Homo sapiens: one gene and its partners. The protein of the gene in region 1 purifies or fractionates together with the protein of each later gene. This does not show direct contact. Each region holds a gene or a part of one and is shown in the gene's direction. Other genes may lie near its edges.

Evidence for each region. Proteins that work in one complex are often made in the same cells at the same time.
Region 2: the proteins of NFKBIL1 (region 1) and UTP15 purify together in Homo sapiens (affinity purification with mass spectrometry; one large-scale study listed by BioGRID and IntAct). This does not show direct contact.
Region 3: the proteins of NFKBIL1 (region 1) and RNPS1 purify together in Homo sapiens (co-immunoprecipitation; 3 studies listed by BioGRID and IntAct, with this or other methods). This does not show direct contact.
Region 4: the proteins of NFKBIL1 (region 1) and TNRC18 purify together in Homo sapiens (affinity purification with mass spectrometry; one large-scale study listed by BioGRID and IntAct). This does not show direct contact.

What each region holds. Positions count from the first base shown.
Region 1 is NC_000006.12:31,549,646-31,554,697, forward strand, and holds part of NFKBIL1 (NF-kappa-B inhibitor-like protein 1), read left to right. Parts: intron 1-5,052. UniProt on the Homo sapiens protein: Involved in the regulation of innate immune response. Acts as negative regulator of Toll-like receptor and interferon-regulatory factor (IRF) signaling pathways.
Region 2 is NC_000005.10:73,575,743-73,579,242, forward strand, and holds part of UTP15 (U3 small nucleolar RNA-associated protein 15 homolog), read left to right. Parts: intron 1-1,209; coding exon 1,210-1,294; intron 1,295-2,113; coding exon 2,114-2,263; intron 2,264-3,008; coding exon 3,009-3,110; intron 3,111-3,274; coding exon 3,275-3,408; intron 3,409-3,500. UniProt on the Homo sapiens protein: Ribosome biogenesis factor. Involved in nucleolar processing of pre-18S ribosomal RNA. Required for optimal pre-ribosomal RNA transcription by RNA polymerase I.
Region 3 is NC_000016.10:2,255,374-2,258,126, reverse strand, and holds part of RNPS1 (RNA-binding protein with serine-rich domain 1), read left to right. Parts: intron 1-2,400; coding exon 2,401-2,542; intron 2,543-2,753. UniProt on the Homo sapiens protein: Part of pre- and post-splicing multiprotein mRNP complexes. Auxiliary component of the splicing-dependent multiprotein exon junction complex (EJC) deposited at splice junction on mRNAs.
Region 4 is NC_000007.14:5,385,835-5,389,334, reverse strand, and holds part of TNRC18 (trinucleotide repeat-containing gene 18 protein), read left to right. Parts: coding exon 1-1,663; intron 1,664-3,500.

The sequences.
Region 1 (5,052 bases):
CCACCAAAATTCATTTGGTGACAGAAACCTAATCTGAACTAAAGTAAGACTATTATTTATTTTCATCCTACTGATGTCAATATTCATACATTTCCCTGCAGAAACACTCATGTGTTTGGTTCTTGGGCTGCCTAGGCCCTCCTGGGCTACCTAATATAGAGTGAGTGTACTTTTAGGTCAGCCCTATCAAGTCCCAAAAACATTTGAATTCTGCAAAACCTTTGGCACTGAAGGATTCAAATGGGGAACCTGGTGATATTATAATAGTGGTGGAGGCCAGGTGCGGTGGGTCATGCCTGTAATCCCAGCACTTTGGGAGGCCAAGGCAGTCAGATCACGAGGTCAGGAGTTCGAGACCAGCCTGACCAACATAGTGAAACCCCCATCTGTACTAAAAATACAAAAATTAGCCAGGCATGGTGGCACACACCTGTAGTCTCAGCTACTTGGGAGGCTGAGGCAGGAGAATCACTTGAACCCGGAAGACAGAGGTTGTGGTGAGCCGAGATTGCACTACTGCATTCCAACCTGGGCAACACAGCAAGACTCCGTCTCAAAAAAAAAAAAAAGAGTGGTGGAAGCAGCTCTTTATAGGTAGAGCCCTGCTTACTAGAATAAAAGCTGAAACCTTCTTTCCCCATCTAGAGATTTCCTTCTGGAGTAAGAACATTACAGGAAAACCTCTAGATCCAGATGAACAACCCTAACATCCCCCAGCTCAAGTATAGACAGAAGGCCCCTCCCCCAAAACTCCCCCAAATGGTCAAAAAACCCCCTATTTAAAAATTTCCTTTAACGTACCTGAGATAGGCTAGCATATTCAGATTTGTTTCTTGTTGTTTTTACTTAAAACAGAGTAGGTTTACTGAGTGCAGGCATCTAACTTGACAGCTCATATTGTAAGAGGCAGGACCCTGGAAGGCAAAAGAGCGGATTACCCCGAAGCAGACCTGCATCCAGACCCCAGCTCTGCCATCAACAGGGACATGCAGCTTACCTCTGTGAGCCCAATTTGCCTCGCAAAAATGGGAGTTTTGTTTTTTGTTTTGTTTTGTTTTTTTGAGATGGAGTTTCCCTGTTGTTGCCCAGGCTAGAGTGCAATGGCGCGATTTCAGCCCACCTCAACCTCTGCCTCCTGGGTTCAAGAGATTCTCCTGCCTCAGCCTCCCAAGTAGCTGGGATTACAGGCATGCACCATCACGCCCGGCTAATTTTGTATTTTTGGTAGAGACGGTTTCTCCGTGTTGGTCAGGCTGGTCTCAAACTCCCGACCTCAGGTGACCTGCCAGCCTAGCCTCCCAAAGTGCTGGGATTACAGGCGTGAGCCACCGCGCTCAGCCAAAATGCCCCTGATAGTGTGGTAGGGATTTCCTTTATTGTTTGTTTGCTTGTTTGTTTTGAGACAGGGTCTCATTCTGTCTCCCAGCCTGGAGTGCAGTGGTGCAATCATGGCTCACTGCAGCCTCTACCTCGTGGGCTCAAGCAGTCCTCCCACCTCAGCCTCCCTAGTAGCTGGGACTACAAGCACACACCACCATGCCCAGCTAATTGTTTGTATTTTTGGTAGAGACTGTTTTGCTATGTTATCCAGGCTGTTCTGCATCTCCTGAGTTCAAACAGTCTGCCCACCTCGGCTTCCCAAAGTGCCGGGACTAGAGGCGTGAGCCACCACACCCAACTCCATTGTATTGAATTTTAAGAAGCTGGTGAGACTGATATTATCCCATTTACAGATGAGGAAAGCAGGGCCCAAAAGGTTCGGGAACTTGTCTGAAATCTCACAGCTCTCAGGTCATTGTCTTCCAAAGGGGGACCCAAGCTCAGTGCCTTCACTCCCAGACCCTGGTGTCCTCTCTGGCCTTATTTACTCCTGGTCCTCTGCCAGCCCTGCCACCAGATGGCCTTCTAACTCCTTGGTTGAAAGGCCCATCTCATTCAGCTTCCAGCTTCCTTTTTCTTTTCCTTTTGAGACGGAGTCTTGCTTTGTCGCCCAGGCTGGAGTGCAGTGGCATGATCTCGGCTCACTATAACTTCTGCTTCCTGGGTTCAAGCGATTCTCCTGCTTCAGCCTCCCAAGTAGCTGAGATTACAGGCACACACCACCATGCCCAGCTAATTTTTTTATTTTTATTTATTAATTTTTAAATTTTTATTTGTTTATTTATTTTTGAGACGGAGTCTCCCTCTGTTCCCCAGGCTGGAGTGCAGTGGCAGTATCTTGACTCACTGCCACCTCCGCCTCCTGGGTTCAAGTGATTCTCCTTCCTCAGCCTCCTGAGTAGCCGGGACTACAGGAGCCTGCCACCATGCCCGACTAACTTTTGTATTTTTAATAGAGATGGGGTTTCACCATGTTGGCCAGACTGCTCTCGAACTCCTGACCTTAGATGATCCACCTGCCTCGGCCTCCCAAAGTGCTGGGATTACAGGCATGAGCCACCATGCCCGACCTAATTTTTGTGTTTTTAGTAGAGATGGGGTTTCAACATGTTGGCCAGGCTGGTCTCAAACTCCTGACCTCAAGTGATCCACCCACCTCAGCCTCCCAAAATGTTGGGATTATAGGCATGAGCCACCGTGCCCATCCCACAGAATGTCTTTTGGTTTTGTTTTTGTTTTCTGTTTTGTTTTGTTTTGTTTTGTTTGAAAAGGAGTCTCATTCTGTCGCCCAGGCTGGAGTGCAGTGGCACAATCTCGGCTCACTGCAACCTCCACCTCCCAGGTTCAAGAGATTCTCCTGCCTCAGCCTCCCAAGTAGCTGGGACTATAGGCGTAGGGACTGTAGGCGTATGCCACCACGCCTGGCTAATTTTTTGTATTTTTAGTAGACACGGGGTTTCACCATGTTAGCCAGGATGGTCTCGATCTCTTGACCTTGTGATCTGCTCACCTCAGCCTCCCAAAGTGTTGGGATTACAGGCGTGAGCCACAGCGCCTGGCCAAAATGTTTTTATGTTTATTTTTCTTAGTATGAAACTCCAGCGTATTAAAGAGCATTGAGAACGGTTGATCTGGTAAATCGCTATAAAGGCGGCATTTCTTTTTTTTTTTTTTTTTTTTTTTTTTTGGCGAAGTGGGGGATGGAGTCTCATTCTGTCGCCCAAGCTGGAGTGCAGTAGTGTGATCTCGGCTCACTGCAAGCTCCGCTTCCCAGGTTCAAGCCATTCTCCTGCCTCAGCCTCCCAAGTAGCTGGGATTACAGGCGCCCGCCACCACGCCCAGCTAATTTTTTGTATTTTTAGTAGAGACAGGGTTTCACTGTGTTGGCCAGGCTGGTCTCGAACTCCTGACCTCATGATCCGCCCGCCTCGGCCTCCCAAAATGCTGGGATTAGAGGCGTGAGCCACCGCGCCAGGCCTAAAGGGGGCATTTCTAATACTGGAGAAAGGTGAACTTTTTTTTTTTTTTTTTTCCGAGACAGAGTCTCGCTGTGTCACCCAGGCTGGAGTGCAATGGCGCAATCTCAGCTTGCTACAACCTCCGCCTCCCGGGTTCAAGCAATTCTCCTGCCTCAGCCTCCTGAGTAGCTGGGCACCTGCCATCATGCCCAGCTAATTTTTGTATTTTTGTAGAGATGGGGGTTTCACCGTGTTGGCCAGGCTGGTCTTAAACTCCTGTCCTGACCTGAGGTGATCCACCCACCTCAGCTTCCCAAAGTGCTGGGATTACAGGCATGAGCCACTGTGCCTGACCAGGTGAACTATTTTATAAATAATATTGGAACATTTGGCTCATCTAGGGAAAAACAAGAGTCCCACCTCACACCTAATCAAAAAGTAAATTCCAGCAGATTAAATACCTGAATATGACAGGAAGGTACACACCAAATTCATGGGACAGATGGCCTGGGGAGGAATGAAACTTGGAAGGCGGTATCACGGTAAACTACCTTTATCTGTGATGATTTTATTTCCTTAAAATAAATTATACTACAAACATGACAGTACATTAACAAACCCTGTGGTAGGAATGGGGTTGTGTATTGTATTATACTTTGTATTTTTGAGAGTTTTTTAATTTCTTTTTTGTTGTTGTTGAGACAGAGTCTCACTCTGTCACCCAGGCTGGAGTCCAGTCGCGCAATCTTGGCTCACTGCAACCTCTGCCTCCCGGGTTCAAGCAGTTCTCTGCCTCAGCCTCCCAAGTAGCTGGGATTACAGGCATCCGCCACCACGTCAGGCTAATTTTTGTATTTTTAGTGGAGACGGGGTTTCACCATCTTGGCCAGACTGGTCTTGAACTCCTGACCTCATGATCCACCCACCTTGGGCTCCCAGAGTGCTGGGATTACAGGCATGAGCCACCGCGCCTGGCCGAGTTTTTTAATTTCTAAAAATAAAAATGAGTATACATCTAAAGTAGTAGAAGAAAATGCAGAGAATGTTTTATAATCTTAAAATAGAGCCTTCCTAAGAGTGAAGTGAAATAAAAAGTCAGAAAATAATATATTGATATAGATTTAACTACATGAAAATTTTAGGCCGGGTGCGATAGCTCACACCTGTAATCCCACACTTTGGGATGCCAAGGTAGGCAGATCACTTGAGCCAGGAGTTCAAGACCAGCCTGAACAACACAGTGAGACCTGGTCTGTACAAAAAATACAAAATTAGCCAGGCGTGGTGGTACGTGGCTGTCGTCCTGTAGTCCCAGTTACTCAGGAGGCTGAGGTGGGAGGATCGCTTGAGCCCAGGTGGGGCAGAGTTTGCAGTGAGCAAGATCATGCCACCGCACTGCAGCCTGGGCAACAGGGTGAGACCTTGTCTCAAAAAGAAAAAAAAAGCTTTTTTAAAGATAGATAGAAGAAAATGTTTGCAATATGTATAACACATACAGTATATAGAACCCTCATATCAATATATATAATTTCCAAAGAAAAAGTGGATAAAGAATATGAGCAATTCATTCACAAAAAATACAAATAGCCAAAAGACATGAAAAAGAAAAAAACATTGTTAATAAAATAATTTTTTAATCTATCCAACTGGCAAAATTAAAAGGGTTGATGATATTCAATTTTGGTAAAGGAAGACATAGGCACACTTGTATATT
Region 2 (3,500 bases), on another chromosome or scaffold:
ATGGAGTTTCACTCTTGTTGCCCAGGCTGGAGTGCAATGGCGCGGTCTCGGCTCACCGCACCTTCTGCCTCCTGGGTTCATGTGATTCTCCTGCTTCAGCTCCCAAGTAGCCGAGATTACAGGCATGTGCCACCATGCCCGGCTGATTTTGTATTTTTAGTAGAGACAGGGTTTCTCCATGTTGGTCAGGCTGCTCTTTAACTCCCGACCTCAGGTGATCTGCCCACCTCGGCCTCCAAAAGTGCTGGGATTACTACAGGTGTGAGCCACCGCACCCGGCTAATACCTTTTCTTTACTCCCAAGTTTGATCTTCAGATGACAGTGGCTCATGGTCTGTCCTTCTGTTTTTTTTTTTTCCTTTTTTTCTTTTTAAATTTTTGAAACAGAGTCTTACTCTGTGGCCCAGGCTGGAGGGCAGTGGCACGATTTCGGCTCACTGCAACCTCTGCCTCCCAGGTTGAAGCAATTCTCATGCCTCAGCCTCCTGAGTAGCTGGGATTACAGGTGTGTGTCACCACACCTGGCTAGTTTTTATTATTTTTGGTAGACATCGGGTTATGCCGTGTTGGCCAGGCTGGTCTTGAACTCCTGGCCTCAAGTGATCTGCCCACCTTGGCCTCCCGAAGTGCTGGGATTACAGACCTGAGCCACCACACCCGGCCCTTCTATTTTTTTTATAAGTGGCTAGTCAAAGTTTTTATACGGATGTTATAGTTAGGGCTGGTATACAGCTCTTTTTTTTTTTTTTTAGACAGAGCTTTGCTCTTGTCGCCCAGGCTGGAGTGCAGTGGCACAATCTTGGCTCACTGCAGCCTCCACCTCCCAGGTTCAAGCAATTCTCCTGCCTCAGCTTCCCAAGTAGCTGGGATTACAGGCATGTGCCACCACGCCCAGCTATTTTGTATTTTTAGTAGAGATGGAGTTTCACCATGTTGGTCAGGCTGGTCTCGAACTCCTGACCTCAGGTGATTCACCCACCTTGGCCTCCCAAAGTGCTTGAATTACAGGTGTGAGCCACCGTGTCCGGCCTACAGCTCATTTTTTAAGGGATTCAGTGATGAATTAGTTTGTAATTAACATTACTAATCTTTGTTTTTCTTCACTGTTGTACAGATTTTAATGTTTGTATTTTGTTTTCAGAAAATAGAAATTTGCATTTTATACTCGTTTTCAAGGTGATTTTTGACAAAGCTTTTCCTTTTTATTAGGAAGGTGAAAGTATACAGCACAACTTCCTACAAAGTAGTCCACAGTTTTGATTATGCAGCTTCAATTTTGAGTCTTGCCCTTGCAGTAAGTACCTTTACCTATTTTTAAGTCTGTCACTAACCCTGCCTGTTAAATGAAACTAAAATGGAACTTTGGGCTTTATTTTTAGATTTGAGTAACTTTTCTTGCCACATCAGATATTTGAGTTAAGACAATTGCTGGAATATGTAACTCGTCCTATTGACTCAGCATGAATTCAGATTTAGGTCCCACTCACTGTAGAACTTCAAACTAAATACAGTGCTCTAGGCATTGTTAACATTAAACGCAGGACCTGGGAAGCTGGTAAATCTCTCTTCAACTCATTTAACTCAAGAGTATTATAGTACACTAGAAAGGCAGATTAGCTCTCTGAGCAGAAAAAAAGATGTGGGGAGAAGGGGACAACAAAATGAAATATCTCCTTTTCTTTGTTACTGCTCTTTCTGAAATGTATACTGTCAAGTTTTATGAGAAGCCACATTTGGGCAGGAAGGCATTTGACTATATTATATAGAAATCTGATTTGGGAGAGGAAAAGCTTATTAAAAATATTTTTGGGGGGCAAGATCATAAAAGTCTTGCTACTGTGTAATCTTTGATGCCGTTAACTATGTATTATACAAACTTTGCCAGTGATATTTTACAAGTATAAGTTCTGTCAATGTAGTTGTATCCTAAGGAAAAAATGATTTCGCTTTAACGTCTTGCACCAATCATCGTTAGGCAGACTATGTGTATTTGAATGGAACTGTTGGTGAATGTATGGACAAGCAGCAAACACATGGTAAATGTGTTTTGAAGTAAAAGTACTATAAATTACGAGTTAAGAATAGACTAACTTATTTTTCTAATTGTTATTAGCATGAAGATGAGACAATAGTTGTAGGAATGACCAATGGAATACTGAGTGTTAAACATCGGAAATCTGAAGCAAAGAAGGAATCACTTCCCAGAAGAAGAAGGCCTGCATATCGAACCTTTATTAAAGGAAAAAATTACATGAAGCAACGGGTATTTGTGCATTTCTCATATTTGTTTAAAGGGTGAAATTTGTTAGAGTAGCCAGCTTCATCCCTGCACATTACTGGAAAGCGTAGTTCACATGGCACTTTATTTTGCTTTTCTCTACATCAGAATTATTTCTAGATTGCTAGATTGGGGACATTATTGATGAGTAATGGGGAACAAGGACTACTTTATGTAATACTCTGCATCATAACATAATGTTATAATGCTTTACTGCATTCAAAATAATGTCTTTCACATACTACCTGATTTGATCTAAATCCCAAGAAGTAGTAGAACCAATCATGTCCCTGTTTGGCACCTGAGAAGACTGAGCGACAAATAATTTGTGATTGATTCAGGATTTCATTACTGGTATCCAGAGTTGTTGAGACTAGATCTCATTATCTCTGATTGTTGTTTGATTTCTCTTTCTACTGTACCACACTGCCTGCCACATAAAGAGAATTGAAATGAGTAATTTTTACCTAGAATTAAGGCAATGGTGCATGTTGTAAGTTAAAATTATAAGAGAGTAAGAACATGTTGATGTAGCAAGTTACTCCTTTTTTTTTTTCTTTTTTTGACTCTGATTAGCAGGATGCATTTTTATTTAATCTACATTATGGGCATATGAACATTATTTGTGACATAGTTCAGAGATACCACTTCATTATGAAAAAGTTTATATTAAATGTATATTTACACAGATGCTGATTTTCCTTCTCTATAAATGTACTTTTCATTGCAGGATGACATTTTGATTAACAGGCCAGCAAAGAAGCACCTAGAATTGTATGACAGGGATCTGAAACATTTTCGGATCTCTAAGGCACTCGATAGAGTTCTTGATGTGAGTGAGCATTTTTTAAAAAATCATGTTATTACTTACCCTGCATATTACCATGACTTGGAACTGTGAAGATAAATATTATTCAAACTTGATAATTTAGTGCAAGACAGTGATTTTTTTTGTGCTGTTTTGTCTACTCATGTTGACTTTGAAAATTTTTCTAGCCCACTTGTACAATAAAGACACCCGAGATTACGGTGTCCATCATAAAGGAGTTAAATCGAAGAGGAGTCCTTGCAAATGCGCTTGCAGGTCGGGATGAGAAGGAAATCAGTCATGTTCTTAATTTTTTGATAAGGTATGTTTTTTGTCTGTGAAACACTTACATTTTGCATCTGAAATCCTTTATCACCAAATAAAAGACATTTAGTTTGATCTTTGTAGAGAACT
Region 3 (2,753 bases), on another chromosome or scaffold:
TTCTTAAACACTTGTATCTCATAACCACTCATGACGTTTATAGCTATTTGTATCTGGCAGAATGGTTTTAAAAGCACATGGACCCTTGTGAATAGTTTCGGGTGGCATTTTGTCCTCAGTGCAGCATTTTGAGGCATGTGGAGTCATCTCTGCTCCACTCCCTGCTGCTGTGACTGAGGCCGCTGGCACTGAGAACACAGCCCACAGTGCTGTCTGGGCTGCCAGGCCTGGTGGGGAGTGGAGTGTGCGTGCCCCAGAACTTTCCGTCTTCCGAGGCCCTGTTACAAACTGTATAAGTAGCTTAGCTGGTTTTTTTCAGTAATTGCCCTTCAGGCATTAGGAAAGTTTCCTTGATATTTGGCTAACTTTTCTTTCAAGTTTCTTAAGTCCTGAAATGGGTTAGGAGCTCTGTGCGCTCACATCAGCTGTTGGCCTTGTAAGTCACACCTTTGCTGTGGAGTCTGCTGATTATCTGCTGTTTGACAGTCTGAGTGCTTGCTGAGCTAAAAACCCAGGGGACCCGGGTACCTTCTGGGTGGGCGTGATTACAGACATTCCAACTTTTCGTAAGATTCTGGTAGGATTTTTTTTGTGTGTCTCCCCTTCTGTCTTTGAATGGAGTGAGTCCATGCTGTCTCCATAGGAGATGAGAAGGGGTTGGCCTTTACTGGCAGCTACACAGAAGATGGATTTTTCTTCATTATTATAGAGTCAGTGCTGTGAAATCCCTAATTTGGGCTAACTTAGGCTGAGTTTACTGAAGTTAAACCTCTTAAGTATGTTCTGAATACATAGCCACATGCCGGAGTTAGTCCCCATGTGCCTTAAAGGTAGTTGAGAAAACAAAAGAGCCCTTTACCCCTTAGGGCACAGAAGGGGCTGCGCTTGGGCTCCCAGTATCCCCAGCTACCAGACAATTCTTGAGGTCGGGGTGCATGCTCCCCTGGGGTTCCTGGGTTTGCACCTCTATTTCCTTTCCTCTCTCCCTGGAGCCCACATCCCACACTGCCTCTCCTCGCTTCATGCACATGGCGTGTGTTTCAGTGCCATCTACATGCAGAGCCACCTCTCTGAGACTGCTTGTTTCCAAACACAAAGTCTTTGGCATCTCCTAAAATTTCCTTCATGCAGCTTCCCACCGCAGCCCCACCTCTCCGTCAGTGGAAGTTCACACCTCACCACCCCCATCCCATCCATCACCAAGCTCTGGCAATTTTACTTCCCAGCTGTCCCCTGAATCCTTCCGTTTCCCTGCCAAATCATTTGATGTTGATTCAGGCCCCTCTCAGTGCTGCAGAGCCCTCCTAAGAGAACTTCTCCCACTTCTCTTAGCCCCAGACCCAGCTTCCCTTGGTTGGAGGAGAAGGAAGCGCAAACGCGGATACTGCCTGCATGGTCCTGCGAGGAAGCCCCACCCTGGCCCTGGGGCCTTCTGTTTGCCTGTCACTCGCTCTCGATGCTACCTTCTCTCACCAGTGCTTTGGGTCCTTCCCAGCACAGGGCCCAGCATAGCCCTTCTCTTCCACCTAGCAGATTCCAGCACATTCTTTACTTTTCTTTTTTTTTTCTTGAGACGGAGTCTCAGTTGTTGCCCAGGCTAGAGTGCCGTGGCATGATGTCAGCTCACTGCAACCTCCTCCTCCTGGGTTCAAGAGATTGTTTTGCCTCAGCCTCCCGAGTAGCTGCGATTACAGGCACACGCCACCACGCCCGGCTAATTTTTGTATTTTTAGTAGAGATGGGGTTTCACCATGTTAGCCAGGCTGGTCTCGAACTCCTGACATTGTGATCCGCCTGCCTGGCTTCCCAGAGCACTGGGATTACAGGCGTGAGCCTCCGCGTCTGGCCTCCAGCACATTCTTTAGCTCTTGACTTGGATGACTCTTGACCTGGGAGGCTGCCTCGACACGTGGAGATTGGTGTGTCCTGTTAGTTTTTATGCCTCTTTTCCTCATGAAACATTAGTCATGATGTTATTTCTGTGATTATCTTTTTTTTTTTGAGACGGAGTTTCGCTCTTGTTACCCAGGCTGGAGTGTAGTGGCACGATCTCTGCTTACTGCAGCCTCTGCCTCCCGGGTTCACGCCATTCTCCTGCCTCAGCCTCCCGAGTAGCTGGTACTATAGGCGCCCGCCACCTCGCACAGCTGATTTATTGTCTTTTTAGTAGAGACATTTTCACCATGTTAGCCAGGATGGTCTCGATCTCCTGACCTCGTGATCCACCTGCCTCAGCTTCCCAAAGTGCTGGGATTACAGGAGTGAGCCACCATGCCCGGCCCTGTTTCTGTGATTATCTTACATTGTCATTGTCCCCCCAGGCCTGTCTTTCACTGTGGCATGCATTGTCTAGGGTAGATGCTTGTTAGATATTTTATGACTTGCTGTCTTTTTCAACAGGACAAATTGATGGCCAGGAGATCACTGCCACCGCCGTGCTGGCCCCCTGGCCTAGGCCACCCCCCAGGAGATTCAGCCCTCCCAGGAGAATGTTGCCACCACCGCCTATGTGGCGCAGGTCTCCCCCACGGATGAGGAGAAGGTAAACAATTTGTAGTTTCAGTGGACTGATCAGGCCACAAACCTCATGTGACCGCAGTGACTTTCAGACCCTTTATTCAGCCCTGCCTGCCTTCCACTGCTGTGCGGGCTGGCAGAGAGCAGGAGCCCTTCAGAGCTCATGGAGAGAGCAGGAGGGCCACAGCTGCAGTAAGCCACAGGCAGGAGACGCCCTAGAGTTGCACCAACACAGC
Region 4 (3,500 bases), on another chromosome or scaffold:
GGTTTCTACCTGCCCACCGCGGGGGCTCCGGGCTCCCTGCACTCTCACGCGCCCTCGGCCCGGACCCCTGGCGGCGGCCACTCCTCGGGCGCCCCGGCCAAAGGCTCGTCGTCGCGGGACGGTCCAGCCAAGGAGCGGGCGGGCCGCGGCGGGGAGCCGCCTCCGCTTTTCGGCAAGAAGGACCCGCGCGCCCGGGGCGAGGAGGCCTCGGGGCCACGGGGCGTGGTGGACCTGACCCAGGAGGCGCGCGCCGAGGGCCGCCAGGACCGGGGGCCCCCGCGCCTGGCTGAGCGCCTGTCGCCCTTCCTGGCTGAGTCCAAGACCAAGAATGCGGCGCTGCAGCCGTCGGTACTGACCATGTGCAACGGCGGCGCCGGGGACGTGGGGCTGCCCGCGCTGGTGGCCGAAGCGGGGCGCGGGGGTGCCAAGGAGGCTGCCCGGCAGGACGAGGGCGCGCGGCTGCTGCGGCGCACGGAGACCCTGCTCCCTGGGCCGCGCCCCTGCCCCTCACCGCTGCCCCCGCCGCCCGCGCCCCCCAAGGGGCCTCCTGCACCCCCCGCGGCCACCCCCGCCGGCGTCTACACCGTCTTCCGCGAGCAGGGCCGTGAGCACCGCGTGGTGGCGCCCACCTTCGTGCCTTCCGTGGAGGCCTTCGACGAGCGCCCGGGGCCCATCCAGATCGCATCCCAGGCGCGCGATGCCCGGGCCCGCGAGCGCGAGGCTGGCAGGCCAGGGGTCCTGCAGGCGCCCCCCGGCTCCCCGCGGCCTCTGGACCGGCCCGAGGGCCTGCGCGAGAAGAACTCGGTCATCCGCTCGCTCAAGCGGCCGCCCCCCGCGGATGCCCCCACGGTGCGGGCCACACGCGCCTCCCCGGACCCCCGCGCCTACGTGCCTGCCAAGGAGCTGCTCAAGCCCGAGGCGGACCCGAGGCCCTGCGAGCGTGCGCCCCGCGGCCCAGCCGGTCCTGCAGCCCAACAGGCCGCCAAGCTCTTCGGCCTGGAGCCCGGGCGCCCCCCGCCCACCGGCCCTGAGCATAAATGGAAACCCTTCGAGCTGGGCAACTTCGCCGCCACGCAGATGGCCGTGCTGGCCGCGCAGCACCACCACAGCCGCGCCGAAGAGGAGGCCGCCGTGGTCGCTGCCTCCTCCTCCAAGAAGGCCTACCTGGACCCTGGGGCTGTGCTGCCCCGCTCGGCGGCCACCTGCGGCCGGCCGGTCGCTGACATGCACTCTGCGGCCCACGGGTCTGGAGAGGCCTCGGCCATGCAGAGCCTTATAAAGTACAGTGGCAGCTTTGCCCGGGACGCCGTGGCCGTGCGCCCTGGTGGCTGTGGCAAGAAGAGCCCCTTTGGAGGTTTGGGCACCATGAAACCCGAGCCTGCGCCCACCTCTGCGGGTGCCTCCCGAGCCCAGGCCCGTCTCCCACACTCCGGAGGCCCTGCAGCGGGCGGCGGCCGGCAGCTGAAGCGGGACCCCGAGAGGCCCGAGAGCGCCAAAGCTTTCGGGCGCGAGGGCTCTGGTGCCCAGGGTGAGGCAGAAGTGCGACACCCGCCTGTGGGCATTGCAGTGGCTGTGGCCCGGCAGAAGGACAGTGGCGGCAGTGGCCGGCTGGGGCCTGGGCTGGTAGACCAGGAGCGCTCTCTGTCGCTGAGTAACGTCAAAGGTAGGTCCTGGGCAGAGCCCAGGTGCGGGTAGGATCTTGGGTCTCTCTGCCGTTTCCCGTACATTACAGTGTGGGCCCTTTCCCTTTGCTATTGCTAAGTCTTTATAAGTATCATTTTTTAAAATGGTCTTGAATGTTCTGTTGCGAGCATGTACCATGGTTCAGTTTTCCACTCCCTTGATGGGCATTTTCGTTTGTTCCTTCTCCGATGTTTTGTGTTCGGAACGTTGCTTTCAGTCTTTGTGTGCATCGCACCTTCGTGATACTTTCAGTCATTTCCTGAGAACAGATGGTCTTGGGAATAGACAAATATCAAACCTTCAATTTGAAGTCATCGAGGGACCTAACTGTGCCTTACCGATTCCAGTGTCCCCGGTACCTAGCCAGCCTGGGCTCTGGCACGTAGTAGGTGTTTGATGGATGAGTGAATGAGTGAGGAACAGACAGAAACTGGGGTTCCAACATCCTCACGGTCTTGATACTCAGTACTTGAGTGACTTTTTAGGTAGGTAGAGAGTTTACGTGCCTGTAAGTGGTTTATGAGTATCTGTTATATTTTGGATTCTTTAGAATTGTTTTATTTATTTATTTATTTTTGAAACGGAGTTTCACTCTTGTTGCCCAGGCTGGAGTCCAATGGCACGATCTCAGCTCACCGCAACCTCCGCCTCCCAAGTTCAAGTGATTCTCCTGGCTCAGCCTCCAGAGTAGCTGGGATTACAGACATGTGCCACCATGCTTGGCTAATTTTGTGTTTTTAGTAGAGACAGGGTTTCTCCAAGTTGGTCAGGCTGGTCTCGAACTCCTGACCTCAGGTGATCCGCCCATCTCAGCCTTCCAAAGTGCTGGGCATTACAGGCGTGAGTCACTGCCCCCAGCCTGTTTTATTTATTTTTAGTTTATAAATTATTATTTTGTTTTAGAGATAGAGTCTTGCTCTGTTACCCAGGGTGGAGTGCAGTGGTGTGATCATAGCTTACCGTAGCCTTGACCTCCTGGGCTCAAGCGATCCTCCAACCTTAGCCTCCCAAGTAGCTGGGACCGCAGGTATGCGCCACCACGCCCGACTAATTTTTTCTTTTTCTTTTTTTTTTTTTGGAGACAGAGTCTTGCATTGTTGCCCAGACTGGAGTACAGTGGTGCCATCTTGGCTCACTGCGACCTCTGCCTCCTGGGTTCAAGCGATTGTGCCTCAGTCTCCCCAGTAGCTGGCATTACAGGTATGCATCACCATGCCTGGCTAATTTTTGTATTTTTAGTAGAGATGGGGTTTTGCCATGTTGGCCAGGCTGGTCTCAAACTTCTGACCTCAGATGATCCGCCTGCCTTGGCCTCCGAAAGTACTGAATCTCCTACCTGTGTCACTTTTTTTTTGTTGTTTTTTGAGATGGAGTCTCGCTCTGTCACCCAGGCTGGAGTGCAGTGGCACAGTCTCTGCTCACTGCAACCTCTGCCTCCTGGGTTCAAGCGATTCTCCTGCCTCAGCCTCCCGAGTAGCTGGGACTACAGGTGCGTGCCATCACGCCTGGCTAACTTTTGTATCTTTTAGTAGAGACAGGGTTTCACCATATTGGCCAGGCTCGTCTCAAACTCCTGACCTCAAGTGATCCACCCGCCTCGGCCTCCCAAAGTGCTGGGATTACAGGCATGAGCCACCGCATCTGTTTTTTTTTTTTTTTTTTTTTTTTTGAGACAGACTTTTGCTCTGTTGCCCAGGCTGGAGTGCAATGGCATGATCTTGGCTCACTGCAACCTCCGCCTCCTGGGTTCAAGTGATTCTCATGCCTCAGTCTTCTGAGTAGCTGGGATTATAGGTGCACGCCACCATGCCCAGCTA